Linked DNA regions of Homo sapiens: region 2 is linked to region 1. The links come from fine-mapping of genetic effects on gene expression. A gene starts in region 1. The other region holds a variant in brackets. All regions are shown on one strand. Distances are from middle to middle.

Evidence for each region. PIP is the estimated chance that this variant, and not a neighbour inherited with it, causes the effect.
Region 2: its variant is fine-mapped to the expression of TRAPPC12 in whole blood (TOPMed, PIP above 0.99).

The regions. Positions count from the first base shown.
Region 1 is chr2:3,376,452-3,392,576 of GRCh38, reverse strand. TRAPPC12 (trafficking protein particle complex subunit 12) reads right to left here and starts at 12,883. Exons shown (of 12, transcript NM_016030.6): 1 at 12,701-12,883; 2 at 3,907-4,957. The coding sequence starts at 4,953. It overlaps EIPR1 (EARP complex and GARP complex interacting protein 1), which reads left to right and starts at 14,759. Exons shown (of 9, transcript NM_003310.5): 1 at 14,759-14,929. The coding sequence starts at 14,888. RefSeq lists silencers at 12,863-12,912, 14,476-14,535 and enhancers at 13,401-13,917, 13,918-14,434, 14,706-14,755, 14,776-14,955, 14,976-15,255.
Region 2 is chr2:3,431,585-3,447,709 of GRCh38, reverse strand. TRAPPC12 (trafficking protein particle complex subunit 12) reads right to left here. Exons shown (of 12, transcript NM_016030.6): 6 at 3,819-3,931. Among named protein-coding and RNA genes, the nearest start is that of TRAPPC12-AS1, 44 kb to the left of the region's middle. RefSeq lists a silencer at 13,924-14,174. The variant G/T (reference allele first, on the strand shown) is at 8,205.

The DNA of each region.
Region 1 (16,125 bases):
TCTGAGAGAAATACAATTAGTCATTTTCTATGGTAGGGAGAAATACAACATAAGACAAAGAGGCCAGAACTAAGGCAAAGAGGACCTGTGTTCTGGCACTGGCTCTGCAGTGTTGTGGCTGCATTATCTAGGGTAAACACGCCCATGGGACTCTGCCTGGATCTCTACTGAGCCACAGGACACTGAAATTATCCATTTGCAGGTCTGCCTTCCCTTGTCTAGGCCGTCTGTCCTGGTCTGGGCTGGCGGGTAGGCATTACACCTTCCTTTGTGTCAGGAGAGAGGATGCCTGGGACATGGCAGGCTTGCTGGTGAACACACAAGTCATTCGGATCTGTTTCCTCATCATAAAAGGAGAAACTGGACAGGACCAGAGACCTTTAAGCTTTTTTGAGGAACAGGTGTTTTCCATTCCTTGAAAGCTTTGAGCTCGCTGCAAGGTACTGAGTACTCTTAGCCCTACTCACTAAATGTCATATGCTCACCCCAGCCCTTTTGTCAACCAAAGTGAAACACCTCTCCCCCTTTCCAAATGTACCTAAGACCGTTGGACTGCAGCACCCAGTTGGGAAGCAATAGGTTAAGTCTTTCCTGTGGCAACCTTCAGATTTCCTCTGAGTTACAGTCAGAGGGAGAAGCAAACGGCAAGGCAAGCAACAGAGGGTTTGAAAGAAAGTGCTAAAGGCCAGACCCACAGATGTTAAAGGAATTTTACAGCAGAGAGGACAAAGACCCCGAGAGAGAAGGGAAGAAACATGGAGCAGAACATGAAAGCCATCTTGGGGGGACAGGATACAGAGACAAGACCAGGGAGTGGGAGTACAGGTAAGAATTCAGTGACAAATAAATCCAATCCCACACATCCAAATACCCCTGACATCAGAGTCCGGAATTGGTATTCATTAAAAAGATCCTGCAAAGGTTAAATTATGCTCAGTATATTCTGCCTAAGAGGGTAGAGAAGAATGCCTAGACCAATGCCTGGTCAAGAGTAAACACACAATAAGTATAGTAAATGAATATTAGTAAATTAGTCAATGAACATTCTGGAAAGACTGCCCGTAAAACACCCAAAATACGGATGTCTATAGGCTTACACTTCAGTTATCTGAAAAAATTAATTGGCTTCATTTCTCTAGTATGTCACTTTTCTTTTCCTGGAGAATTCACCACTCCTAGGTCTCAGCCATCTATCAATTCAATAGCAATAGTCACAGTCATACGATTGGCTTATTGGCTTACCTATTTGTGTTCAGGAGTGAGAGTGGAGTGGGTAAGTGGGTTCAGGAGTGGGTAAGTGGTTGCACTAAAGGGGGCTGTAGGTCCTTCTTTCAGTTTCAGGAAGACAGACACGCACAGGATCTGAGGCCAGTAACTGGGAGGTGGGGCGCCCCGTCATGTACAGTGCCATATGGAAACTACTAATCCTGTCCCACAATTTGGTTGCAATAAACTAAAACTGACATGCATATGATTTAATCTGATACATATGTATACATATATTTATAAAAATTTTATCATACTATGCATGCTACATGCTATCTTCTGTCCTGATTTTCAAATTTAACAGTATGAGATGAACCTCATTAAATATTCTGTTTTATATCTTTTTAAAAATAGATTTTACAATTTATTTATATTATTATTCACCAATGATCAGAGGAAGATTTTATTACTTAGAGGACTTTTAGGTTTGCTGCGAAATTAAGCGGGTATAGAGATCTTCCATATATTGCCTGTCCCCCTACACACACAGTCTTCCCCATGATCAACGCACCTCGCCAGAGTGGTCCACCTATTACAACTGATGAATCTACATGGACACATCATTGTCACCCAAAGTCTACAGCTTACATTAGGGTAGACTCTTGGTGTAGCACTTTCCATGGGTTTGGTAAAATAAATAACAACATGTACCCAGCATTAAAGTATCACACGGAATAGTTTCATTGCCTTAAAATCCTCTATGTTCCACCTGTTCATCCCTTCCTCCCCCTAACCCCTGGCATCATTTTAAAAACTTACATAAATATTCCATTGCAAAGATGAGGTGAGTCAAATGTATTCAAGCCTCCTAATAACGGGCTTTTAGATTATTTCAGATTCTTTGCAATTACAAACCACCCTGATAGACATCTCAACAGCTGGTATATGTATAGAAGTATGATTATGTCCTCACAATACATTCCTAAGAGTGGAATTTCTGGGTCAAAGAATATGCACATTTGATACGCATTTTAAAATTTACTTAAATATGTTTGTACTGATTTTGGTCCCATCTGGGCTGCCTTAGAGAGGCTATTTTCCCACACTTCAACAAACAGTAGATCATGATTGATAAATGGAAACGGAAATGACTCGAGTGTGATGGCAGCAGGAGGCAGACAAATCCTAGGCAGACAGGGGCGGTCCCCGGTGAAACCTGACTGGAACTGAAGACAGTTTAAAGCCTAGCTGCAAGTCCCGGATAAACCCACGTAAGGGACTGAGAACCTTTCGTCCCATGTGGAGCACTTTCCTCTGATTGATTACCCCTCTTCACCTATTTTACATATACCTACCCTTCCCCAACTGGTTTTTTCCACTGTCGTGCCCACCTTTGAGTGGTGACTTTGTTTTAGCCTTCTTTTTTGCATACTCACAATCAGCATGCACCCCTCCATTCTGAGCCCAAAAAAGCCCCTGAGCCAGCCACACTGGGAGAGACACCACCTGACTTTCGGTGGGGGACCACCCTCGCCTCCCCTCTCTGCTGAGAGCTGTTTTGTGCTCAATAAAACTCGTCCGCCCTCCTCACACTCTGGTTGTCGGCATAATCTCGTTCTTCTTGGAGGCAGGACAAGAACTCAGGACTCCGCGGAGTGCAGGTACCAAGACAGCAATAACACTGTAACCCTCCATCCCCCACCCCCTTCGGCTGCCCCACTCAACGGGAAGCAGTGGTCTGTTAATGCGCCCGTTTAGAGCCGTTAAGATGCCCGTTAGTCCGGCAGCAGATGCGGGTCGAAAAGAGCTGTGTGCACGCTGTAACATCCCCTCTCGGGCTTCGGGGTCGCGGTTGTTGCTCTTCGGGCGCCACGGTGTTCCCCTCGCCTGGACGCAGGAGTCCACTGTGGGAGTCACTTGCCACACGCCTGGTCCAGCTACAAGCCCCGTGTGAAGCCTGCTCCTATGCTGGCGGTTGGAGCAGCCCCCGGACCCCTACACTCAGTTGCTCGCACAACCCACCTGCTGGGGGCTGAGAGCACAGTCACCGAGGCCACGGGATATGCCAAAGCGCAAGCCAGGTGCGGCCCGGCAGGCCTAGTGGGCGAACCTGGGCCGAGAGAGGCCTGGGCAGGGGCATCGCCGACCACGGAGGTCTCCAGCTGGCAAAGCGGCACCGAAAAAAACCCTGCATCAATTGTCTTTCATTAGTAGTGAGATCGAACATTTGTATGTTACCATTTAGCTTAACATTTATATATTTCTGTGATTTGTTACTTTTTGGGTCACGCGTATTTTTCTTATTCAACCTATAAAAATTCTACATCGGGCACATTATATGTTACAGGAATATATTTTTCCATATTTTAAAGAAAGAAATGGATTTATTATTAACTGGAGTTCAAATGTCAAATGGATTACAGGACATGGAGAACTGACTGAGAGAATTACGGTAGAACTGTCTGCCTTGGTGGTATTTATTTCTACCTCTCTGAGTAGCAGTCCATTAAATATGTTCTGTTGGGGAAACCAACAGATCCCTAATTACCCAGGGACAGAGGAACACAGGCGCTCACAATGGGATGTTAGGAATTACTGAAAACAAGGCCTTCTCCTTCTCCATCCCTAAAGGGGCACTGTGCGTATCTCACAGACGCAGAGAGGAGGCACGGGCTGCGGAGGTGGGAGACCCGGGCTCACCTGGATGTTGTCGAACCTGAGGCCCGGCATGGTGAGGTTCTCCTTGTCCACGAACACGGCGCCGCGCTGCTGGGTGGCCACGGCCCGCAGGACTCCACGCGTAGCCTCGCCGGGAAGCCAGGCGTCGTTCCTCCGGTCCATCTCGCTCATGCTCAGGGCGGTGGCAAAGGGGTCGTCACTCCCTGCAAACACTGCCTGGATGTGCGCGAAAGGCTCTGGCGACGCCGGGGGCGCAGCTGCCTGGGGCCCTCGCATGGCCACGGGTTCGGGGCGCCCCTCGGTCCCGGGCACAGCGAGGGGAGGCGGGCTGGCGGGGGCCGGGGAGCCCGCGCCGGGATTGCTGACGGAAATGAAGGCGGAGGTAGTAAAGGAGTCGAAGAAGTCCGAGGCCAAGGAGTGGCTGGCGGCCGTGTCTCCGAAGAACGTGCTGAGGCTGGGGCTGGGCTGCACGACCTGGGGCGGTGTCCTGGCCGAGGCCTCGCTGGCGCCACCGAAGCTGGGCGACTTCACCATCTGCGGCTCGAAGCCGTCCCCGGAGGCTGGGGGCGCGCGCTGGCTGAAGATGGTGCACACCGGGACCGGCTCCGCAACGGGAGGCTCCTGCTCCGGGCGCGCGGCTTCGCTGCCTGGGACCTCGCGGGCCGCGTCCTGCCTCGGGGCCCCTCCGCTACTGGGTGCCGCGTCCTCGGGGGCACAGTCGCCGTCGGCCTCGCCGCTGGGACTCGGGGTGCCCGCGGGCTCCGGGCCTGGGTCGCCTTCCCCTCCGGGCTCAGCTTCGTCCCGCACTCGGCCCAGGTCGCCCGCGTCGCCCTCGCTGTTGGGGGAGTCAGAGATGAGGACGCTCTCCATCATGTGTTCGTTCAGCTTGTCCGCGAGAGGACTCGAGCCTTCCGATGCGGTCTCGTTCTCTTCGGATCCAAACTCATCTCCGCCAAGATCGATGGTTTCCTCCTGGAAGAGCAACCCCTGCTCCTCCGGAGGCGCGAGCTGAGGGGGGTGCGGGGCCTCCGGGGCCGGGGTCTCCTCGCCGCCGCCAGCGTCCTCCATGACCCTGAAAGCAAAGACAGAGAGAAGGCCCCTGAGCGTGATCTTCATTCACCTCAACCGAAAAATGAGTATTGCTTATAGATTCAAATGACGCAGACTTCCATTTCTCCAGCTTCTTATCCATGTGCTTTTGATTATGGTAAAATACACATAAAATTGACCACCTTAAGTTCAGTAGTGTTAAGTACATCTACATTTCTGTGCAACCAATCTCCAGAACACTTTTTATCTTGCAAAACTAAAATTCCATCCCCATTAAACATTCCCCCGTATACCCATCTCCCCCGCCTAGAGCATCCACCATTCTACTATAAAATAAGTGGAATCACCCGATAACTGTCTTCCTGTGACTGGCTGATTTTACTCAGTATAAAGTCCTCAAGGGCTATTTATGCTACAGCTTGGTCAGAGTTTCCTTCCTTTTTATGGATGAAAAATATTCCATGGTATGCATACACTACATTTTGTTTATCCAGCTATCTGTTGTTGAACACGTGGGTTGCTCCCATCTTTTAGCTATTGTGGATGCTGCTGCAATGAACGTGGCTGTACAAACAGCTCTTTGAGACCCTGCTTTCAATCATTTTGGGTAAATACCTAGAAGGAACTGCTGGATTATATGGTAATTCTATTTTTAATTTTTTTGAGGCACCAAAAAACTGTTTTTCATAGTGGCTGAACCGTTTGTCATTCCCACCAACAGTGCACAAGCCTTGGAATTCACATCCTTGCCAACACTTGTTATTTTGTTTTTATTTCATAGTAGCCATTCCAGTAGGTGTGAGGTTCCAGCCATATAAACACTACTTCATTCTGAGAGTCAGCTAAGTCCCTCCTCTTCCATGAAGCCCTCCCAAGACTCTTCAATTTGTAATAGTCTCTTGACTTCCCCATGCCGTCCGCCCCTACCCCCGCCCCACGCCCCAGCTCATATTATCTGCCTGACTCTGGAAATCTGATACAGTGCGAATGACATGAAAAATTTAAACAGTAAGAAAACAGCACACTCACTAAGCACTGATGGCTGAAGCTGACAACACAACTAGCTAACATTTATCCGCACATACTATGCCCCTGGCTATATATACATATGCCTGTGTGATTCTCAGAACACCCCTCGAGACAGCTGCTATCACTGTCTTCGTTTCGCAGATGAGGACACTGAGGCCTTGGGAGGCTATGTAAGCCGAAATCACACCGCTAGTGAGTGGGGAAACCAGGACCAGCCAAAGAATGAGACAAAGAGCTCAAACTGTAAAAAAGTATTTGTTCTTTTTCTTGAAAAACTTTTACTTTATGTAGTTTTACTCTCATAGTGAACAAATTCAAGTTAAGGAAATCTAAGAGACTATGATAAAAGATAAGGGATTTTTTTCAGAATAAAACAACACGTACCTTTTTTACTTAAAAAATGACACTTAGCTGATCTCTAGATAAGACTACCCTTTTCTCACTGTCAACACTTCCATCATAGTATTCCCAATGAGTCAGCCTTCCCAAAACATTATTTTAAAGTACATAATCCAAGTTATACATTTTGAAGAAGTTTCCGGTTCAGCCTGGTCAGCTACTAATTCCCTTATACATTCATCCAATAATTGTTAAGTATAAATGAATAAAAAATCCAATGAAAAGGAGTAAAACGTTTTTTTTCCTGCCATGTTTCACCGGGAGCCCGAAGAACAAATTGCCCTAGAACCCCAAAGGGGGAGCCCCCTGTGCATGGTAAGGCTGCTCCTTCGGGTCCTTCCTGTGCAGGGATAGAGGCCGGGCACAAGGAGCAAACAGGCAGCATGAGGCAGTGCCCCCTCTGAAGTCTCCCAGCAGGACTTGAAGGCACTAGCGTGGTCTGCGTATTTTATTTTAGAAATAAGAATTGATTTCGATATAAGCTAATGATGAGAGAAAGGGATCTTCCCTCCGTCTCATCTACCCTCAGCCCTAACAAAATTCTAGGTTCTAAAGCTAATTCTGATTCAATCTCACAGATTTTAAAAGTTTTATTGCCTTTGTGAAGAAACTTTTTAAAGAAACAATTCTTACTATTGTGAAGATGAAGCTGCTTTAAACCTGTAAGATTTAGGGAAATCTGTTTATCAGAGATATAATAACAAAAAACATCGCCTAGAAAAACCACCAAAATAATAAAAATTAAGGTAAAATGCTTCTAAATTATAAAGCTTAAAAACTTTATAAATTGTAAATTAAGGAGAACTGATAAAATGGGAATGTCCAAAATTTTCATTAATACCTGCAAACCACTTTTGAGAAGAGAAGAAAATAAAAAAATAAATTTTATTCTTAAGTAAATACCAAAGTAATAAAAAGCCCTAATAATTTAGGGCAAGGATGATCACTTTTGCTTTCACACAAATAAAATCTAGATGCAGGAAAATGCTTGTAAGTAAGGATCTGAGGGTTTCTTCTCTAGAAAATCAAGAGGAATGCTCAAATAAAAATGATATAAAACGTGATTTAGATGATGCTTTTATGAATGGGAAGACATACATATATTATAAAGCTACATCTATATAAATTATATACATAAGATTTTGTGAGAATGGACATATAATTTGTAGCAAAATAGCTTCTTCACTTCAAGGGTTTCCTTACTCTAATCTTATTCCAATGTAAGGTTCAAATGCAAAGCAGACACTAGTAATAACCATGTATATATGACGAGATAGTTCTATAACCATAAAAAAAGTATAACCAGTAGTTAAGTCTTCCTACAAAGAAAATATAGGGTCCAGAGGGTTTACCAGTGAATTCTACCAAAGATTCCGTACAGATAATTCCTACAGTACAAAAATTCTTGCAGAGAAGAAAAAAGACACATGACCCAATTCACTTTATAAGGCTAATATAACCTTGAGACCAAAATTTGACAAGGCCATACTAAAAGGGAAGCTATCATCTCACTCATGAACACACATGCAAAAATCTTGAAATATTAGCTAACTGAATCAGCAATGTATTTATTTTCTACCAAACTCAGGTAATCCCAGAAATGTACTGTTGGTTTAATGCGATAGATTAAATAAAAGTACATGACTATCTCAATAGATGCACAAGAAAGTATCTAATAAAATTCAGCATCTGCTCAAGATAAAACCTGTCAGCAAACTAGCAACAGAAAGTAACTTCCTTAATGCAATCAAAGGTATCTACCAAAAACCTAAAGGAAACCTCAAATTAACAGTGAAACGTTTAAAGCATTCTCTTTAAAAGTAGAAAAAAGATAAAGATGTCCTCTTCAACATTTTTATGCTGCCTAATACTGGAGTCCTCGGGCAGGATTAAGGCAAGAAAAATAACTAAAAGCTACAATAAAAACTGAAAAGAAAAAAATACAAACCTTCATTCTTCGTGTATGATTATTTATGTAGAATACATCAAAAATCTATGGTATAAAGACTGAAATATTGGGCCAGGCACGGTGGTTCAGGCCTGTAATCCTAGCAATTTGGGAGGCCGAGGAGGGTGGATCACCTGAGGTCAGAAGTTCAAGACCAGCCTGGTCAACATGGTGAAACACTGTCTCTACTAAATATACAAAAATTAGCCAGGTGTGGTGGAGGGCGCCTGTAATCCCAGCTACTTGGGATACTGAGGCAGGAAAATCACTTGAACCCAGGAGGCGGAGGTTGCAGTGAGCCGAGATCGCACCACTGTGCTCCAGCCTGGGCAACAGCAGCGAAACTTCATCTCAAAAAAAAAAAAAAAAAAAAAAAAAAAAAAAAAAAAAAAAACAAGACTGAACTATCACAAGGGAATATGTAGCACACATCAAAGGAAGAGACGATTTTCCTTGAGTGATGTGTAGACAAATCATGCAGCTGGGAAAAAATAAACTTGGAATCTTGTCTCACCACAGACACAGTATCAATCTCAGGGACGTTAAAAACTTAACTGTGAAGGCCGGGTGCGGTGGCTCACGCCTGTAATCCCAGCACTTTCGGAGGCCGGGGCGGGCGTATCACGAGGTCAGGAGTTCAAGATGAGCCTGGCCGACATGGTAAAACCCCGTCTCTACTAAAAATACAAAAATTAGCCAGGTGTGGTGGCGGGCACCTGTAATCCCAGCTACTCTGCTACTCGGGAGGCTGAGGCAGGAGAATCGCTTGAACCCAGGAGGCAGAGGTTGTAGTGAGCCAAGATTGAGGCACGACATTCCAGCCTGGGTGACAGAGAAAGACTCCGTCTCGGGCGGGGCGGGGGTGGGGGATCAAAAATTAACTGTGAAAGGCAAAACTTCAAAACTTTCAGAAGAAAATATAAGAGAATATATTTTCAGAGTAGGCAAAGCCTCTTAAACTAGGCATAATCAGTACAAACCATAAAGGGAAAATGGATACATCTGCTATATTAAAATGGAAAGTTCTATCATTAAAAACCTAAAAAAAGTGAAACAAACAAATGTAACTGAGAAAGGATTAACACGAAGAATACATAAAGAATCCCTACAAATTAATAAAAGCACACTAAATGATCCATTAGAAAAATAAGCAACAGAGCTGAAAGAGGTATACCTTTGAACATCCATGTTGAGAAACCACTTGGTATTATCTAGTAAAGTTTAAAAAGCACATTATCTTATCACTTTGATAACTATACATCTTGATTTTTCCCAGAACAATTCAATTTTTCACCCATGGTTTAAGTTATTTCTATTATTTTATTAGTATTATTATTTTATGAGACATAGTCTGGCTCTGTCACCCTGGCGGGAGTGCAATGGGACGATGATGGCTTACTGCAGCCTCGATCTTCTGGGCTCAAGCCCATCCTCCTGCCTCAGCCTCTGGAGTAGCTGGGACTACAGGTGTGCACCACCACACTCAGCTATTTTTGTATTTTTTGTAGAGATGGGGACTCAATATGTTGGCCAGGCTGGTCTCAAACTTCTGAGCTCAAGTGATCCTCCTGCCTTGGCCTCCCAAAGTGCTGAGATTACAGGCGTGAGCCACGTGCTTCGCCTCAGTAAAATCATTAAGTGTCTCCTTTCACTCTTAAAGGAGTCTTGGTTGAGACAATAAATATGTGGTCGTAGTACCTAGGACCTAGCAATTCCACTGCTAGATACCTATCATGGAGGAATTCCTGTACATGAGCAGTGTAAGCTATGATGCTGAATTTCATAAATAACACATCAAAATACCTTTCTTCTAAAGTCCTAAAAGAAAAAGTAGGCTGGGCGTGGTGGCTCACATCTGTAATCCTAGCACTTTGGGAGGCCGAGGCAGGCGGACCACGAGGTCAGGAGATCAAGACCATACCGGCTAACATAGTGAAATGCTGTCTCTATTAAAATACAAAAAATTAGCCAGGCATGGTGGCGGGCGCCTGTAGTCTCAGCTACTTGGGAGGCTGAGGCAGCAGAATCACTTGAACCCAGGAGGCGGAGGTTGCAGTGAGCCAAGATCGTGCCACTGCACTCCAGCCTGGCGGCAGAATAAGACTCCATCTCAAAAAAAAAAAAAAAAAAAAAAAGTGGAAATAAACACTGCCTGTAGACACAATAATAAGTAAATAAGTAGACTGTGGTATACTAGGACATAAAATATTAAAATAGTGGTGAAAATCAGTGAACTCTTCCATATCTAACATATAAATTATGTTTGGATCTCACAAATACAATTTTGCACAAAGAATGAGTAGAAAAATAAACAGCATGACTCTGTATATTCAAAAACATGTAAATTAAACAAAAGTGTTGAATCCAAACACTTTTTCTGTGTTAGGAACACAAACATATTTGGTCAAACTACAAAGAAAAGCCAGGATATAGTAACAGCCACTTTAGTGAGGGAGGGGTGGAAGGTGATGGCAGGAGAGCTTGACTGGGGAGGGACACACGGAAGTTTCAACGCACTGGGAAATGGTCCCCATCTTATGCTGGTAATGGAAGACTGGGTTGACTTGATCTTTAAATCTCACATGTGTGTTACGGGTAGTCTTTATAGTTCATAATTAAAAATGGAAAAACACAAGTATCTGTTCTTGATTTGTACGTGATAGAAATCTTTACTCCCTCCTATCATTGGCTTTATTTTTATTAAACTATAAATAGGATTTTAAGCTTACATAAGCTTACAGAAGCTTTACATCACAGTGCAGCAAAGAAATCTGACTTTCTCCTTGTCCAGTTGAGGGCTTTGCACAAGAATGTGATTAATTAATTGTTTAAAATTTTTTTAAATATTAAATTTAAGTAATTCTGTATTTGAGAAATAAAAAGTTCCTAACAACATTTAAAACTTGGTTTCTCAGGTTCATTTCCTGGACACAGACACTCTGTAAACATATCTTTTACCAAATTGCAGTCATGTAAAATTTCCTTCCATAAGGGCACGAGGGTGTGTAGTGGAAATCTAGGTGGCACGTATTAACAGAAGTCTCCATGTAATGAACACTCACTACAGATCAAGCATTTTACCTTATTATTTAATACTCATCCTAAACTTTTGAAGCATTATTATTACCTCCATCATACAGCAGAGAAGGCCAAGTGATTTGCCTAACATCACACTGACAGTACCTGATGGTGACAGGCTACCCACACAGCGCTTTCTGCCAATACTCTTTTCTTTGTGCTGGTCACCTCTCAGCTCCTCTTGCAAGGTTGCCAGGCAGGGGTGGGCAGAAAGAGCTCTGAAGGCAGTGTCTCAATAACTGTGTTGAGTCTTAGCTTCCCGACCAAGTGAAGTAACCTCTGAAAATCTTGATCTTTTAGATGGTACATCAGAATAAAGAGGATTAAATAGTGGCACCCCTGCATAGGCATCTTTTAAAGTGTGAAGAGCTGCACAGACACAAGCATAGTAATTATCATTTTAATGATAAAGCAGAGTGGCAACACCCAGTTTAGTAACTGTGAAGAAGATCCCATCAGATATCACAAAATGTAAGAACTGAATGAGTAACACTGTGTAATATTTCATTTGCTTTTCCCCTGTCCCTCTCCCACCCCAATCCCAAGACGGGACTGGCTCATTATCCGCCACTATCTTCTGAATTTGCGAACAGTGACTGAATCCAAAGACACCATATCTTCAAGTAGCCATTAAAAAGTACAAACCGTAGGTCCAAGAAAATTTTTCCTTGGGGCTACACTGTTTCGTAGTGAAGAGTGAAAAAATGACACGTTAAAACACATCTTTGACCCTAACGCTTTCTGTTGAATAAACGCTTTTTCGGTCTTCACAGTAAATATACTCTACAATTAGTATGTGTAGCAACAGCGGACGTTTACACAGTGACTCAAATGCTTTTACACTGCATTGCAGCCTCACAATGCTGAGTTTGGCAGGGCAGGTCATTAGTAACCTCTTTCCGCGGGAGGGTGAATTAAGTCTAAGGGAAGTTAAGGGGCTTGCTGGGGGCCTGGCTGGCACCAAGCCTGGAACTGGGGGTCTCGGGGACGCCTGGGCGCGCGCCAGCGGGTAGTTTCCCACACGCTTCGCAGCAGCTTCCCCTTCCCGCAAACTCCGCGGGCTGCAGAGACGCTTCCAGCCCTCTGCAGACGTGGAGAGCAAGGGCCGCGGCGACGTGGAGCCTGGCACAAGGCCCGCGGAGCACACACGCCCTTGGGTGGCAGGCGACCCCGCGCCCGGACCCCACGCCCACTCTAGCATCGGTCCCAGAGAAGGTCCCTCCGGGCTGAGGCCAAAGCCAGTGTGCTCCCTCCCCGAGGTGGCGCTACACGGTCCCATCCCCTCTGGACTGCCGAGGCCCTGATCCTCACCTGCCACCCGCCCACTGGAGCTGGGCTAAGGGGTCACCTGCGGCCGTGACCAAGGTCCGTGAGGAAGGTGACAGAAGCCGGGAATCGGAGAGGAACTGGCACCCCCGGGGAGCTCTGTACGCCTGCGCGTGCCGGGCCGCGGCGCGCCTAGTTCTGCTCAGGCCCGATGCAGGAACCCGAGGCCCTGCCCCCAGGCCGGAAATGGGGTTCGTTTCCGGTTCGTCTGCTGTGGGCGGGGCCTGGAGCCCTAGGTGTGAACGCGCACAGGCAACCAGGAGCCGGTAGTTGAGGGGAGCGGACCCTGTACTTGGAAATGGGAACGGAGACTCCACTCCACCTAGCCTGATTCTGTCACTCAGAGGCAATAGGCAAGCCTGTGGCAGATGGGGCGGGTGAAAGGGAGTCGCTTAGGCTATTTTTATTGACCAGCATATCCTAGAAATCAGTGTTTCTATGGATTTGTCTTTGTGTTTATCTGTATTTTGTAAGTTTCTTACCATGCACCTGCAGTACTTGTATAATAAAATTAATGATAAAGATATCAGTGATAGATGGGTGGGTTTAATCCCGAAGTATGAAGGCCCTCTTAGCTCCGCAAGTTAATATCGGCAAACAGAGTGGTTGAATAGGATGATTCTCATGTCTGGGCCATTGCTTACTTGATTTCTTTCTTTCTTGTTTTTGCTTACTTGATTTCTTTCTTTTCTTTTCTTTTTTTTTGACCGACTCTGGCTCTGTCGCCCAGGCTGGAGTGCAGTGGCGCGATCTCGGTTCACTGCAACCTCCGCCTCCCGGGTTCAAGCGATTCTCCTGCCTCAGCCTCCCGAGTAGCTGGGATTACAGGCGCGTGCCACCACGCTGGGCTAAGTTTCGTATTTTTAGTAGAGACGGGGTTTCACTGTGTTGGCCAGGCAGGTCTCGAACTGACCTTGTGATCCACCCTCCTCAGCCTCCCAAAATGCTGGGGTTACAAGCGTGAGCCACCGCGCCCGGCCTGCTCATTTGATTTCTCATGTAATCTCTAAAATTTCATACACTCAACAGATACTCATCCAGCCTTAACTCAATACCACGCGCCTTGCCCAACTGAGCAAAACGAGACCCAACCATTTCCGTCACGGAGATCAATAAAGGGTAGAGGGGAAAGCTAATCACAGAAATGGAGGAAAGGTGCGTGGTCCTGGAAGCCCCGGTGGAACCAGGCTAGCGGCGTGGTTCAGCTATGATGTATTTTGGAGTCCTTGCGATGCCATTTCTGCTGGCCCAAGGCCAGGGCAGGCACTTTGAGCAGGATGCGAAAGAGGGGCAGTCTCTCCACCACAAGTCTTTAGTCTTTGGAGACCTCTAGGAACCCCAGGGCCTTCCCTTCCGACTCCCATTCGGAGGCATATGCAGTCCAGGACCACCAGTGGTGCGGTGCCGGCTTTCATAACCCCATCCTTGGTAGTGCTTTCTTTGCCACACAGTGCTGGGCACCTGCAGAAATGCATTAGGCATGGCCCTGACTTAGGGCACCTTGGGCCGAACCTAAGGGAGTCAGCTCAGGTGCCCATCCTGGCTACCCAATGGACCAATGAGCGCTGCGACTGTGTTACTCAACTTTGCAGCGTCTCATCGGTAAAATGGAAGTGTAACAGCTTATTCATAGGGTTGGATGAAGCTCCTTATGGCAGTGCGTGTGAAGCGCTGGCCCAGCGCTCAGGAACGCCAAGTACATACAAATGACAATACATGGCGGCGCCCAACTACGGCGTGAGCGATTCTTAGATGCGATGGCTAGCTAAGGCTAATCGCCGCTTGCTCCCGACGGCCTGCGCTCGGAGCCGGCCTCCACCCACAGCCGGCCTCCGCGGCCCGCTCCGCCCACCAACTTATTTCCTCTGGGCCGGGTTCTCACCTCCAGGAGTCCCCGCGCTGAGAGCCCGGATGTGAGCCCAAGTGGCCATGCGCACAAGCCAGCGCCGCTGCCATTGGTCGCTGGTGAGGAACAGATTGATGACACATCCGAAAAATAGGAAGTGGCCACTACGGAAGCTGTTCTGGGCCAGAAAGACTTCCAGTTTGGAGTCGTTTGCTGCGGGGAGGGAATGAATGGGCGCTGGGAACACGCCCGCGAGGTGGGGACGCGCCGGCCGTAGCGAGGTCCTTAGCGTGTGAGTGGCCGGGGTCGGGTCGCTTCCCCGCAGCATGGAGGACGATGCACCAGTGATCTACGGGCTGGAGTTCCAGGTGGGTCACTGGGAGGGCGGCAGGTGCTGCTCGGCCTGGCTGTTGATAGCATGCGCGGTCCCATGGTGACTTCGGTTTGCAGATCTCCCACCAGCCCTGCAAGGACCCGTGTCTGTTCCCTAGTTCCCATTTTGCAGAGAAGTAAACTGAGGCTTTAGGAGGTTAAACGGTTGTACTGGATAACAGGGTTGGCCACAGCCGGCCTGCCTCCTTCCCCTTCACATCCTGTCCCGAACATGACTTCTGACCTGGAAGTTATCACTCACTTTGGTGGACTCATTTATTTACACGCCCACCTTTTCCTCTAGAATTTGAGTTCCTGAAGGTAGGAACTGTATGTTGTTTAAAATAAAAATGTTTGATTTTGAAACAATTTAAAGTATTTAGAAGAGTTGTAAAAATACATAGAAAGTTCTTCTTTACCCTCCACCCAGCTTCCCTTAATGTTAACACTTTACATAACCATCGTACATTTATCACAGCTTAGAAATTAACATTGGTACACTAATATTCAGTAAACCACAGACTGTCTTCGGATTCAACTGTTTTCACACTAGTTTTTTACCTTGTATTTTCCAGTGCCTTTTCATGACTGTCACATAGTAGGTGTTCAACAAATGACTATGAACCGAATGAGCCCCCAGAGCATAAGCAATGCACATGGTAGTTCAGGACAGCAAGAAAGCTGCCGTGGATAGAGTAAATGCGTCAGGGGGAATGAGGTAGGGGATGAGATGAGCGGGGGAGGAAGATGAGGATTGTGTAGGGCCTGTTAGAGCCCTGTCCTGGTTTTCATCTATTCAAGTAGCTTTTGAGAATGTGTTATGCCTAAAGCACTGAGGGACAGATAGAGAGATAGAAACACAGTTCACTGCCATATGAAATACTTGATACATAATTTTGTGCAGCAGTATGTGTTAAAGATATAAATGATGTCTGCTTTTTTTTTTTTTTTTTGAGATGGAGTCTTGCTCCGTTGCCCAGGCTAGAGTGCAGTGGCGTGACCTCGGCTCACTGCAACCTCCGCCTCCCGGGTTTAAGTGATTCTCCTGCCTCAACCTCCCAAGTAGCTGGGATTACAGGCACCCGCCACCACGCCCGACTAATTTTTGTATTTTTAGTAGATACGGGGTTTCACCATCTTGGCCTGGCTGGTTTTGAACTCCTGACCTTGTGATCTGCCTGCCTCAGCCTCC
Region 2 (16,125 bases), 55 kb before region 1:
AGTATTTTTAGATTTTGCACTATGATATAGTTTGGACATTCATCCCCTCCAAATCTCATGTTGAAATGTGAGCTCCAGTGTTGGAGGTGGGGCCTGGTGGGGGGTGTTTGTGTCCTGGGGGTGGATCCCTCATGGGTGGCTTGGTACCGTCCCTATGGCAATGAATGAGTTCTGGCTCTGTTAGTTACCTTGGGATCTGATTGTCAAAAAAAGTCTGGTGCCTCCCTCCTCCTCCTCTTCTCTCTCGCTGTCTTTCTCACCATGTGACACACTTGCTTCCCCTTTGCTTTCTACTATGATTAAAAGCTTCCTGGCCAGGCGCAGTGGCTCATGCCTGTAATCCCAGTACTGTGGGAGGCCAAGGCGGGTGGATCATTTGAGGTCAGGAGTTTGAGGCTAGCCTGGCCACCATGGTGAAGCCCTGTCTCTACTAAAAATAGAAAAATTAGCCAGGTGTGGTGATGGGCGCCTGTAATCCTAGCTACTCAGGAGGCAAGGCAGGAGAATCGCTTGAACCTGGGAGGTGGAGGTTGCAGTGAGCCAATAGCGCCACTGCACTCCAGCCTGGGTGACAGAACGAGACTCCGCTTCAAGAAAAAAAAAAAAAGCTTCCTGAGGCCTCACTGGAAGCAGATGCTGACACTGTGCTTCTTGTACAGCCTGCAGGACTGTGAGCCAAAATAAACCTTTTCTTTATAAATGACTCACCCTCGGGTATTCCTTTATGGCAAAGCCAGATGGACTAATACACACTTCTTGAGTAAAGAAATTCTAGCATGAACACAAACTGTCCCTTTTTAAATTCTGGAGGATCATGATGTATTGGTGATGGCTGCAAACCTAAAAGGAACAGGTGAAACAAGCATCGTCTACCAAACTGTAAACTCACTGAGGGCGAGGCTGCGTTCTGTTGAGTCCCGAACTGCCAGTGTGCAGTACTCAGTAGGTGCTGAAAGGGCATTTGCTGCATGAACAAATGAACAAGCTCAGATAGAGCTGTTCTGGACAGCGTGGAGACGCATTGCTCCATGTCCCCGCAGTGCCCACTGTTCACATCCAGATAAAAACTGCTTCAGTTCAACACTGAACCAGCCGCAGAAAGGTCAAGAATGCCCACATGCGGCCATGAGCCCCTAACGTGCAAGGAAGTGAGCGAGGAAGTTGGCGACGGTGCTTCTTCTCCTGCCAAAGGTGGCGGACAGGCAAGGCTGACTATATGGTCATGCCCTGGGTCTTTCCCTCTTGGTCCAGGCATCCACCAGCTGTGCCACAGTGCAGCTCTCTCTCTCAAGAGGGTGTCAAATTTTAAGTCAGCACATAAAGGAACACATAGTAATTACATATTGAAATTAACGGTGAAAATCCTTTAAGGTGAAGACCAACACACACCTTTTCATAAATCCAACTGCTTGTTTTTCTTCCAGGATTAGAACGAATTGCGATTTCCTCATTTAAGTACCATAAGGAGTGTTGGCTTAGATTTGGATCATGCCATGGAAAAGATATGTATCTTTAAACATGAGAGATACCTGAAGTGCGGTTATGTATTCACAAGATGAGAGGCAGGTGGAACTGTAGACCAGCGGAGGGAACGAGAAGCATGAGTGGCTCTCTCACTGACGGTGGCCCCACGCCCAGTCAGCCTGAGAGAAACGTTCCTAGGATGTGACTGCACTAACCCTTCTCGTTTCTCCCCAACCCTACGATGCTTAGCTGTCAACTGCTGTTGCTTGGAAGCCCCCTCAAGAGTCTCAGGAGGGCCCAGCCCAGCAGAGCACAGGCTCGAGCCCATCTCCAGGCATCAGTCAGGGGGAAGGGGCAGGGCCCCATTCAGCACAGGGGTCTTCTGAGCAGATGTCAGTTGACCCCGGACAGCACTGTCCTTTCTTGGAGCAGAAATGCTGGTGCAGGGTGGAAGAGAGGACTCTCGGTCCTTCTGTCTTCAAACGGGACATGTTATAGTGATGAAGCCAGGCAAGTGATGAAGAGCATGGACTTTAGAGCCAGATGACTTGGGTTCAACTCATGTGATCCTAAGTTACCTAACCTATCTGTGCCTCAGTTTCCCCATCTGTAAATTGGGATAATAACATCTCCTTCATAGGGTTGTGATAAGGATTAAATGAGTTAATATTGGAACTCAGAGCAGTGGCTGCCTCATAATGAATGCAACAAAGGTGTCTGTCAGGTGGAGTAAGTGCAGGTGCCCAGAGCAGCGGTGTGGGAAGCTCCTGCTCTCTGCTCCACCGTCCCTGCTGCTTCATAGCTAGTGCTAAGTGGCTCCTCTCATCGTTACACTGTAGTATGCAGTTTTTCTTTTTTTTTGAGACAGAGTCTTGCTCTGTTGCCCAGACTGGAGTGCAGTGGCTTGATCTCGGCTTACTGCAACCTCAGCCTCCTGGGTTCAAGCGATTCTCATGCCTCAGCCTCCCAAGTAGCTGGGATTACAGGCATGAGCCCCTGTACCCAGCCTGTAGTATGCATTTAAGGAGCATAATTCTGAAATAGGACATAACAGGACCAGGAAAGCTGACTTGCAAAACTACTTCAACTAACTTGGCTTTTCCATCCACAAATCACCCTATGGCCCAGAATTTTCTCTCTCAAATACTATAAAGATTTCCTACAATGTGACATGGAGGATAATGAAAAATTCGTATAGTTTAGAAAGTCACTGATTTAGAACTTCTCAATTTCAAGTTATGTGCTTCCGATTTCTGTAAATAAAATTAAACCCCGTTTTAAGATTCAAGAAAAGTGTTGAAATGTAAAAAAGTTGGTAACATGATTCTCCATCAACTGATATAGTACAGAAAGCAAACAATTTTTCTTTTTATCTTTTAAGTTATGGTAATAAAAAAATGGAAGTGGGTACAAAGCCCAGGACAACAAGGGGCCTAGAAACGCCTGTTTTTTCTCCACAGATAAGGATAAAGAGGGCCCCTTCCTTCCTTACTAGGAACACTGTTAACACCATCATCTTGGAACTCCGCAAAACTTCTACCACAACAGTTAGGAAGTGAAAGGAGGAATCTGACAAGAAGAATCTTAGTTTTCCCAAAAATTATAATATGCTGCTGCTCCTAATAACTGCTTGTTGTTGTAGTTTTCAAAGTACTTCCGCATACCTTATGTCACTGAACCTATACAGGAACACTGTGACGTGGGTAGAAAGGCAGGATCATTCCTAATCTGAGATGAATACTCTATAACAACCTGTAGACAGCAAAGTCTCTGAGTCCCACATTTCTTCCCAATGTCAGTTAGTGTAATAACGTGCCACTTTGGTGGCTCCCACATTAACTGTGACTTCACAACCAAGAATGAGTCCGAAAACACTCCGACTCTGCCTTTGCAGTCAGGATCATGAGTGACAGTTGCCATAATGCAGAAGCACTTACTTGGATTTGAAAGCTTAAACCATGATTGCTTTCAGTACTGCTCCGGTACCTCTGTCTGCACGTGGCAGGTGCGTGTGGGCACTTGTGGGACACAGGGGTGGTCTGGCACACTGACCTTGAAGCTTCAGCTGGCAGCCTTGGCAAGAAAGATGTCTCTGCCTTTCAGCTTCCCATAGTACCAGGCAGTAAGAATTACAGGACTCAAGCTCTGCTAGAAACTCTTACCATCCCTAAAAAAGATTTCAGCAAGAGACACGACTACCAGGCCACACAAACCGGGTCACCTAGCCTTCTGAAGGCAGAAGCAGCGATGGTGCATGGGGCAGGACGGGCAGGGAACAGCACGGGCATGTCCTGTGGGGAGGGCGTGGAGGGCATGTTCTCCCCGTGGCAGGGAAGAATGACAGCGCCACCTACCTTGCTGCAGACAGTCTTCACCTTGTGCAGTCTATCCAGCGACTCCTGTGGGTTCCCCAGGTACTGCTGAAGCTCCGCGTGCAAGATGCGCATCGAGAAGGGGACCATGGAGCCTGGAATCCAATCAGTGCTGAGTGAGTTTGTTTGCCATAACTGAGCACGCATTCATACTTGGCACACTTGAAGGAGGCGTCGCAGATGTCCCAGCAGAAGTGATGACAGATCCCTTTATTTCTTGTGAAGTATTTAACGGTGTCAACTATAAAATACATGCTGGTTTTCTCTATGGAGCTCTATGTATGTATGTCTCGACAATTATCAGAGGAGACAGGTGGATGACACCACAATTTCCAAAGCTACACTGCAATCATTTAGAAATGATCCCAAAATGAATGAAACAGTAGAGACCGCCAACCCCTCCTCCAATAAAAGAAAAACCAGAATGCTCAGATATTCTTTAATATTTCTTTAGTTTAGCAAGCTCGAATGGTAGGTTGCTTAGCTTGGGTTCCCCAGAAGGAGACCCTGAAGGGAGAAGCCGTAAGCCAGCCAGTGGTTCCGGAAGTGCTCCCGGGAAAACCAGTGGGGAGGAGGCGAAACTGAGCACAGGTGCGTCTCAGGCCTCGGCCCTGGGGATGGGCCTCCCACTGGATTCCATGTGGCCCTGGAGCCTGCGTTCCACCTCTGACAGGAGGCAAGGGAGCTGGACTTGAAAAATCCATCACCCAGAGCTGCCTGGCTTTGCGTGCGCTAAGAAGAGGAAGAAGCTCAGGAGAAACCCCCTTTATATCGTATCACCTGTGGCTGCATCATCTCTCAGGGTAAGGTCAACTTTTTGTTAATATTGTGTTCTCTTCTAATAGGATTTGGAATTTGATCTGTAGTATGTATACTAAGTAGATAACAATCATCAAAAAATCAAATAGCGTGCACTGATTATAAATGAGATAAAGAATAGAGAAATGCCAGAGGGCAATCACATAGATTCAGTAAAGTGCTTTTCAAAATAGGCCTAAGCGATGAATATTCGGATCTGGAATATAGTCTGAAAGATGGTGAGAAAACACGCGTATGACTTCTGCAAGCCACTTAATGTATCTGTGCCTCAATGCATCCATCTGTCTATTCATTAACCATTACTGAGAATGGGCCGTGACCACACTGAAATGAGCTTTATGTTTATGGTCTTTAATAACAAAGGTCCAAAAAGAAGACAGTCAAAATTAAGGAACACTATGGAAAACAGTTCTATTGTGATTATAAGCCTGGAGAAAAGAAAGGTAACAATTATTGAACTTAAAATGTTTAAACTTTCTTTTTTGATGCCACTAAATAATTTCTGTATCTCAAGAGAATATCTGGCCGAGCTTAAGTTACAGCCTGAGTCACTTCGGTTTTCTAGAAATAAACATTTCTAGACCATCCGCATAATGACACAGGGGACTGGCCTACAATTAAGTCATATGTAAGTCATGTCACTGTGGAACCGGCCCAACATGGTAAGTTATATGTAAGCCACGTCACTTCCATCCTTCTGTCTCAAGTAGAGAAGGGGCCAGAATCACTCCTGTGTGGTTTATCACTTACCACAAGGGAGAGAATATCTCAAGAACCCTTCAAGCTCTATAAGATAAGCACAGAAACAAACCTCTACTGGAAGTTCTCAAACCCAACTTGGGACTAGCTGTTAATACTCCGATCTCAGTTTACAGACTAGCTGTTAATACTCCGATCTCAACGTACAGACTAGCTGTTAATACTCCGATCTCAACGTACAGACTAGCTGTTAATACTCCGATCTCAATTTATAGACTAGCTGTTAATACTCCGATCTGGAATACAGTTTGGTGGATGGTGAGAAAACAGGCTGTGTGACTCCTGCCACTTCACCTGAGAAGGTGGCAGAAAGTTAGCTGCCCCTTATCCTGACAACTGCCCATGGACATGGGGGTGCTTCTGGATGTAAAAGCACATGTGAAAATATTTTGAACTAAGTGAAAATAAAAATACAACTTATCAAAATTTGTGGGATGCAGCAAAAGCAGTGCTGAGAGGAAGCTTTTTAGCATTAAATGCATATATTGGAAAAGAAAGATCTGAAACCAGCTTCACCTTTGAAAACTAGAAGGAAAGAAAGAGCAATATAAGCCTAAAGTAAGCAGTAGAGAAGAAAATAATAAAAATATTATTTTATTATAAGAAAATAAAATATTTTATTATAAGAAAATAATAAAAATATTATTGTATTATAATAAGAAAATAATAAAAATATAATAATAAAAATTAGAGCAGAAATCAGTGAAACTGAAAACAGGAAATCAATAGACAAAATCAACCAAACCAAAAACATATTCTTTGACAAGACCAATAAAACTCTGACAAGACCAATAAGTCTCTCCCCAGGCTAGTCAAAAAACAGAGAAGACATAAACAACTAGTACTAGAAGTGAAGGACTATTACTATGGATCCTATGAACAGTAAAAGAATAGTAAAGGAATATTATGAACAGCTCTATGTCCATACATTTGGTAACTTGGATAGAAAAAGAAAAACCTTTCCAAAAAGCAAGCCCCAGACCCAGATGGTCTCACTGTGAATTCCACCTAACATTTATGGAAGAAATGCTACCAGTTCTCTACAATCTCTTTCAGAAAACAGAAGCAGAGGAACGCTTTCTAACTTCTTATATGAGTCTGGCATTACCCTAATACCAAAACCAGACAAAGACGTTACAAGAAAAAAAAACTGTAGACCAATATGTCTCATGAACATAAATGCAAAAATCTTCAACAAAATTAGCAAACTAAATCTAAGAAAACTGAAGTCAACAAAAAATTAGCAACCAAATCCAACAATGTATAAAAAGAATTATGAACCATGACCAGACAGAATTTATTCCAGGTATGCAGGGGTGATCTAACATTCCAAAATCAATTAACATAATCTACCACATCAAACAGGCTAAAGAACAAAAATCATATCAATAGATGTAGAAAAGCATTTAACAAAATCCAGCACCAGCTCGTGATAAAAACTCTCAGCCAACTAGGAATAGAGGGAAACTTCCTCAACTTAATAAAGGACATCTACAAAACAACTGCAGCTAACAACAAACTTAAGAGTGAGAAACTCAGTGACTTCCCCCTAAGATCATGAATAAAGCAACAATGTTCCCTCTTATCTCTTCTACTGAACATTGTACTGGAAGTTCGAGCTAATGCAATGACAAGAAAACCAAAGGTACACAGACTGGGAAGAAGGAAATAAAACTACTTGTTTGCAATGACATAATTATAAAGAACAATCTCAAAGAACAAAAACACTTCTAAACTAGGAAGTGATTAAAAGTCACAGGATACAAGATCAATATGCAAAAGTCAACTGGCTTCCTAGATACTAGCAATAAATGATGGGAATTTGAAATTAAAAACACACTATCATTTCTACATAAATAAGTGAAATACCCACGTATAAAATGGACAAAATATGCACAAGAGCTATAGGAAGAAAACTATAAAACTCTGATGAAAAAATTCACAGAGCTGAAGAAATCAAGAGATATTCCACATTCATGGACAGGAAGACAATACTGCTAAAATATCAGTTCTTTACAACTTGACCTACAGATTCGATGCAGCCCCAATCAAAATCTCAGCAAATTATTTTGTGGTTATCAACAAAATGATTCTGAAGTTAATATGGAGAAGGAAAACACCCAGAACATCCAACACAATATCAAAGAGAGCAAATCTGGCAGGCTGACACTACCCACCTTACAGAGCTACTCTAAAGCTACTGTAAAAAAGACTGGGTGACTGTGTGGTCCTAGAAAAAGAACGGACAAATAGATCAGTGGCCCAGAGCAGAAAGACAAGAAATTGGTCCTCACAAATATAGTCAGTTTGATCTCTGACAAAGGAATAAAGGTAATTCAATGGAGAAAGGACAGGTTTTTCCAAAAATGGTGCTGGGACAACTGGACGTCCACATGAAAAAAAAAAAATGAATCTAGACACAGATCTTACATCTTACCCCAAAATGAACTCCAATAACAGACTACATGTAAAGTGCAAAAACTATACAACTTCTAGAACAGAACACAGATGAAAATCTGAGTGACCTGGGTTTGCTGATAATCTTTTAGATACAACACCAAAAACACCATCCATGAAAGAAAAAAATCAGTAAGTTGGACTTCATTAAAATTAAACACGTATGCTCTGTCCAACGTAGTATTAAAGTAATGAAGAGACAAGTCACAGATAGGAAGAAAATAGCTGTAAAACACCTATCTGATAAAGAACTTGTATTCAACATATATGAAGAATTCTTAAAAATCAACAACAGGCCAGGTATGGTGGCTGATGCCTGGGATCCCAGCACGC[G/T]GGGAGGCTGAGGCGAGCTGATCGCTTTTTTTTGTTTCTACAAAAAATACAAAAACTAGCCAGGTGTGCCTACAGTCCTAGCTACTCCATTGGTTGAGGTGGGAAGGCTGCTTAAGCCCAGGGGCTTGAGGCTGCAGTGGGCCATAACTGCACCACTGGACTCCAGCCTGGGTGACAAAGTGAGACTCTGTCTCCAAAAAACAGACAATGAGAAAACAACCCAATTAATAAATGGGCAACAGATCTGAACAGACATATCACCAATAAAGATTTATCAATAACAAGCATATAAAAAGATGCTCATCATCATATGTCATTAGGGAACTGCAAATTAAAACAATGAGGTAACACTACACACCTATCAGAATAGCGAAAAATCCAAAAAATGACAATACCAAAAGCTGGCTGAGGATGTGAATCAATAGGAACTCTCATTGATTGCTCTTAGGAAAGCAAAATAGTATGAAAGTTTTGGAAGATGCTTGGCAGATATTTACAAGGCTAAGAATACTTTTACCATAAGATCCAGCAATCACAGTCCTAGAGATTTACCCAAGGATTGGAACTGATAAAGGTGATAAAACTTGTATCTACACAAAACCCTGAAAAAGAATGTTTATAGTAGCTTTATTCATAATTGTCAAAAACCAGAAGCAACCAAGATGTTCTTCAACAGAGAAATGGATAAATAAGCTATGGTATATACATAAAATGGAATATTATTCAGAGATAAGAAACGTACTATCAAGCAGAAAAAGACAGCGGAACCCTAAATGCACATTCCTAAGTGAACGAAGCCAATCTGAGGACCACATACTGTATGATTCCAACTATAAGACCTTTGGAAAAGGGGAAACTATGGAGACAATGGAAAGACTCCAAGCTCCCAGGGGTGATGGGGGATTAACCCAGGGGGATGGGGGGATTAATCCAGGGGTGAGGGGGGATCAATCCACGGGTGGTGGGGATTAACCCAGGGGGATTGGGGGGATTGATCCAGGGGTGGCGGGGGATTAATCCAGGGCTGGTGGGGGTATTAATCCAGGGGTGATGGGGGTTAATCCAGAGGTAGTGGGTGTATTAATCCAGGCGTGATGGGGGATTAATCCAGGGGTGATGGGGGATCAATCCAGGGGTGGAAGTATTAATCCAGGGGTGATGGGGGCTAACCCAGGGGTGATGGGGGCTAATCCAGGGGTGATGGGGGTTAATCCAGGGATGGTGGGGGGATTTATCCAGGGGTGGAAGTACTAATCCAGGGCTGATGGGGGGATGAATCCAGGGGTGGTGGGGGATGAATCCAGGGGTGGTGGGGATTAATCCAGGGGTGATTGGGGGATTAATCCAGGGGTGGTGGGGGGATTAATCCAGGGGTGATGGGGTATTAATCCTGGGGTGATGGGGTATTAATCCTGGGGTGATGGGGGGATTAATCCAGGGGTGATTGGGGGATTAATCCAGGGGTGATGGGGGGATTAATCCAGGGGTGATGGGGTATTAATCCTGGGGTGATGGGGTATTAATCCTGGGGTGATGGGGGGATTAATCCAGGGGTGATTGGGGGATTAATCCAGGGGTGGTGGGGGGATTAATCCAGGGGTGATGGGGTATTAATCCAGGGGTGATGGGGGATTAATCCAGGGGTGATGGGGGGATTAATCCAGGGGTGATGGGGTATTAATCCAGGGGTGATGGGGGGATTAATCCAGGGGTGATTGGGGGATTAATCCAGGGGTGATGGGGTATTAATCCAGGGGTGATGGGGGGATTAATCCAGGGGTGATTGGGGGATTAATCCAGGGGTGATGGGGGGATTAATCCAGGGGTGATGGGGTATTAATCCAGGGGTGATGGGGGGATTAATCCAGGGGTGATTGGGGGATTAATCCTGGGGTGATGGGGTATTAATCCTGGGGTGATGGGGGGATTAATCCAGGGGTGATTGGGGGATTAATCCAGGGGTGGTGGGGGGATTAATCCAGGGGTGATGGGGTATTAATCCAGGGGTGATGGGGTATTAATCCAGGGGTGATGGGGGGATTAATCCAGGGGTGATTGGGGGATTAATCCAGGGGTGGTGGGGGGATTAATTCAGGGGTGATGGGGTATTAATCCAGGGGTGATGGGGGGATTAATCCAGGGGTGATTGGGGGATTAATCCAGGGGTGGTGGGGGGATTAATTCAGGGGTGATGGGGTATTAATCCAGGGGTGATGGGGGGATTAATCCAGGGGTGATTGGGGGATTAATCCAGGGGTGATGGGGCATTAATCCAGGGGTGATGGGGGGATTAATCCAGGGGTGATTGGGGGATTAATCCAGGGGTGGTGGGGGGATTAATTCAGGGGTGATGGGGTATTAATCCTGGGGTGATGGGGTATTAATCCAGGGCTGATGGGGGGATTAATCCAGGGGTGATTGGGGGATTAATCCAGGGGTGGTGGGGGGATTAATTCAGGGGTGATGGGGTATTAATCCTGGGGTGATGGGGTATTAATCCAGGGCTGATGGGGGGATTAATCCAGGGGTGATTGGGGGATTAATCCAGGGGTGATTGGGGGATTAATCCAGGGGTGGTGGGGGGATTAATCCAGGGGTGGTGGGGAGATTAATCCAGGGGTGGTGGGGAGATTAATCCAGGGGTGATGGGGTATTAATCCTGGGGTGATGGGGTATTAATCCTGGGGTGATGGGGGGATTAATTCAGGGGTGATGGGGTATTAATCCAGGGGTAGTGGGGAGATTAATCCAGGGGTGATGGGGGTATTAATCCAGGGGTGGTGGGGGGATTAATACACAGGGCAGTGAAACTATTCGGCATGACAGTACAATGAACACGCAACGCCATTAATTTGTTGAAACCCACAGAAGGGACAACACCAAGAGTGAGCCCTAAGGTAAACTATGTACTTTAACAACAATGTACCGCTATTGGTTTATCAATTATAATAAAAGTTCTACGCTAATGCAAAATTTTTATACTTATTAATAATAAAAATGCAAGATGTTATTAAAAACTGTGCAGAAGAAAAGAGGGTATATAGAACTCTCTACTCGATTTTTCTGTAAATTACAAAAAGGGAATACATATATTCTTTAGTATACAATAAAGATGGTGTCTCCAAGGTATTAGATGGAAAATGGAGTTTTTAATGAGCATGGTTCAGATATGGGGATTGCCACATGAAAAAAGATAAAATCAGATCCATTTCTTTGGGGTGAAGGACTGTGTTCTTGGGATCTCAAATTGAGACTTAAAATATGTATTTTTTTTCTCAGAAATACTATTAAATATAGTGGCCAGCTGTAGCTGAAAGAGTAATATTAATACTTGATTAAAGGTACATTCTGACCAGCTGCAGTCTTATCACCTGTGCCCTTGTTAGAACTTCAGAGTCTCAGGCCCTGCCCAGACCTGCTGCATCAGGGCCTGCCCTCCACAAGAGGCTGGGTGACTCCTGTGCATGCTGAGATGGAGAAGCACTGCTCTAAAACAGTACCTTACTGATGTGAAATTAAAATTCGCTAACTCAAAGGTTATCAGGTAATATCAACTATATTTTTATAATGCCTCAAAATGCACATTGACCTTCCTTAGGATCAAATTAAAACAGGTAATCGGTACTATACAGTGCCTTCATTATAACAGGTAATTAGTACTACATATAGTGCATTCATTACATATCACACAGGAAAATGTCCCTCATTAGATATATATTGTTTCCTTGCTACTTCTACCCTTTTAAAAACCACACAGGCGTTTAAAACCTAAATGGGGGTTAAGGGAAAAGAAAGTGATGAAATTCTGCCTGAACTTCTGTGAGGCCTTGGGGACCAAACACCTGCTTGTACTCGTGGACTCTGCGCTGCTGGAGCAGGTGGAGCTGAGCTGTGCTCAGATCCTCCTCCTCCAACAAACCCAACTTCCGGGCTCTTTTCAAATCTCCCCCGTGCTATGGCACTCCCATTTCTACTGCTTTTGGGAGGTGGGGAGGATATTTTTGTGAACAAAATGTACCAATTTCTTCCTTACATTTGGGGGACATATTGAATAAAATCACAATTAAAACTAGCGCTAATGTAGCAAAATTCTTTCAGAATTAAATTTTAACATTTTAAAAATGTTAATGTTATTTAAAAAAATGTTAATGAGCCATTCCCCTGCCCCCCCAGTAACAGTTAACAGTAACTCAGCTGGGCGCGGTGGCTCACGCCTGTAATCCCAGCACTTTGGGAGGCTGAGGCGGGCAGATCACTTGAGGCTGGAAGTTAGAGACCAGCCTGGCCAACATGGCGAAAACCCCGTCTCTACTAAAAATACAAATATTAGCTGGGCGTGGTGGCATGCGCCTATAATCTCAGCTACTCGGGAGGCTGAGGCAGGAGAACTGCTTGAATGTGGGAGGTGGACATTGCAGTGAGCCGAGATCGCACCACTGCACTCTAGCCTGGGCGACGGAGCGAGACTCCATCTCAAAAAGAAGAACATACAAACCACAGTAACTGGAACTTCTGGGCATCCTCGTTGCCACAGAGGGTGATCGGCTCCTCCTGCTGCACCGGCCAGTCCCTCGGTCCAGATGGAAAACTGTAGCCTGAAGGGGACTGCCTGGGGTTCTGTGGCAGGGAAGAGATGGCTGGCTGTGTCCTCATTATGGTGGCACTATTCCCTCACGCTGCCACCTCTCCTTGTAGACACTCGGTTATCAAGTAAACAAACATTCCCTAATCCCAATTCATCAAAAACTGCCAACATACGGCCACCAGGCCACTTGGCAGCCGCTCTGCAGAGACTGTCAGCTGGAAGCTCTGGCAGCATCCCCCAAACAATCCTCTCTCATGCTTCCCTCAATGGGAACCTAAAAGCTGGGCTCTCCCAGGTAGACGCAAAACCAAGAAAGACAGCAGCGGTGACCCAAGCCGGCCAGGTTCTTCCTTAAATATGCTGTCATTGTTTGTGCCTTTCTTAGCAATAGCTGGAGCAAAGTGAAGACTGAAGTGGAAAAAGATCTTCATCCTCCTTGACTTGTATCATTGAAAAAGTCTTGCACAGGTTAAAAATCTTAAAGAATAAAAATCCGAAGGAAAAACATTATCTGCAACTTCATATGAAAGAGAAAAATGTAGGGAATTAAATCAGAAAGAAAAACACCCCTTCCTAGAAAAAATATATAGATCACAGAATTAAAACAATAAATGGAAGCAGCTGGAGAAACCATCTGTGAGCTCCAGGTAAGGTGTGTGAATTTCACTGAGCTGACATTTACTCAGCAGCTCCTAGCGCTGCGCAGGAGGGCCTGCACTGGGTGCACACAATGACAGCCACGAGGTCCGTGTCCTCAAGGAAACTACTCCCCTCTTCAACAAGATGCATACAGAAGCTGCTTTGGTGTAATTCATACTTTTGTTCTTAAGTAAATGCACATAAAAATACCTTTAAGCTGATTCTCTCAGTGGCCAAACCTAGCCCCTGTCTCTGAAGAGCTACCCTGGGAATCTCACTGAAATCCTCCATGCTGAGGGTGGTTGTCAAGCGAGATAAAATATGCAAGGCTTCCACACCAGCCCTGAGGCCCGTCTCTCTCCTGCAGGGAGAAAGAGCATTGGAAAGGAAAAAAAAAGGAGAAGCTAGTCAAAATCTGTAAGGAAAAACAATTCCTAGTGGATCTATTTTTCCGGAAGATTCCCATGTATAGTTGTGACCTGCCAAAATCTAGGTTGGTATAAATACTGTAGAAGTGTTCTCATTCATCATTTAGAAAACATTAAATGAAAATACTCCTACAAAATTTATTTCAGACCGTCCCTTGTTGTGCTGAAAATCCGTGCTGCCACTATAGAAAAGAGAAATGTGCCAGGAATTGCCCGGGCCTTGGTGCTGGGCAGTGAAAAATGAAAGGGAACAAAGATGACATTTCAGCTTCCCTTCAGTGGGGTATGCTACCTTCCGCCACTCACTAGCTGTTTGTGCTGGGTGGCTCACATCCTCTCTGCAGCCTTCTGTGTCACTGCAAACTAGGGCGGGAGGGCCCAGAGGCAGCTAGGTTGCCGTGAGGCCGCAGCAGGTGTGACATGATGCCTGGACGCCTGTGCCACCTGCCTCACAGAAGGGTCTGCGGGAGCCTTCCAGACCCTTTGCCCAATTTTAACAGCTTTCTTCAGTAAGGCACAAACTTACAAGTTTGCCCTGGCATTTCCGTCTCATTTTCAAGTTACGCGAGTGCTTTGCTGGGAAGACTGCTTTGTATTTATTTCCCACTGTCTCTGCCTGTCTGGGTGTGTCCTTCCCTATCCTGACCTCAGCAGGCAGGATAAGCCATGCCTTTGGTTTGCCTGTGCTCAACGCTGGGGATACTGCTTGGTGTCTGTGCCCGGCCAAGCACACAGTGTCACACTTACAGCTCTCAACAAGTCATTTTTGACTTTAATGTGGCATTGTAAATTAAAAACAAAACAAAACAAACCAAACACAAAAACAGTGAGAAAGTCCTAAGAGAAAAAAATACCTTAAATATTTCTTATTTAAATGATTTGCTTAACTAAAGCCCTGAAGCATGAAGACAAACTGAGGCTTGGGTCACTGCCTCTGTACGCGTCTGCCACAGTCATGTGCAATCCACGTGTGGCTTCAGCTACAGCCCAGTGACTGGCCAAGGCCTGTATCTTGTGCAGACAGGATAAGGAGAGGTCTCCATTTGGGTGTTCTCATGGTAGATACGGAACCCCAAACTGAAAATTCCCCTATTTTTAGTAGTTTGTTCTAAGAAAAGACTGAAAATGCCAGATTTCATAAAAACGGTGGGCAAAGTGAAAAGCAGTAAGATGAACTAACGAGCCTTCTCCGAACAAATAAAGCAGCGATCACATGTCCAACCATCAACGCTCGGGAGTTCTGATGCAAAGCATTGTGACCTGGAAATCTAAAGCAGAACGTGGTCACTCTGCAAGGTGAGGTAATTTTGTCATGAAAAATAAAATCCGACACTGGAAACATGCTGAATATTTAATTCTGAGATATCACATATGGTTATGTGTTGATAAAAAAAAGTTTCAGAATTTAATTTGAGAACTCAAAATGTGAATTTCATGATTTTGGAGGGAGGATGAAAAAGGAAGAAAGATCCAGTGACAGTGTGCCTTTATGCACATAGAGGAGCAGACAGCTGATGGAAGAGTAGAGAGATTCGGCATCCGATTAATGGAAGTGTTTGCCCCATCCACTTTAATTTGACCTGATGGTAATCCGCACGGATTAAGTTCTGAAGTACCATTTCCTGTGACGTCATTACAGCTCTTGTAACTTAGTCTAAACATGCAGATCTGAATTTAGTATTAGAAGCAGCACTATACTTCTTAAACTGCATAGTGAAGATAATCAAGCTGCTTTATTTCCAGCGGGAAGATCTTTTGGGCTCCTATTTTCCCTCTAGTTGCATGGAAACTTGAAGTGAGCAATCTAATGCAGAATGTGGTACTTTAAAAATTCAAAGCACTATGAAAGTTTACATGCTCACTGCCATTGTGAATGTTTCTTTGGAACGAGAGGGGTAATTCCAAACAACAGATTAAAAAGATGGTGGTGGGGGTCTGGAAAAATTTAACTGCCTGAGAGAGGATGAAATTAAACTTGTCAGGAATGGACATTTAATTTTCTTTAACATAGTGAATATGTACAACACAAGAGTGAACCCAAGTGTAAACTATAAACATTTGTTAATAATGCTGTACCAATACTGGTTCATCAATTGTAACAAATGTACCACACCAATGCAAGCTGTTAATATAAAATGAATGAATGTTCTAGAAATATTTTCATGGATATAATCCCTATCAACACTTTTCATGACTGCAAACCCTATAATGGGAGAAACAATCTGCACTAGTGTAACAATTTAAAAAATAAAAAAAAAAATCTAAAAGA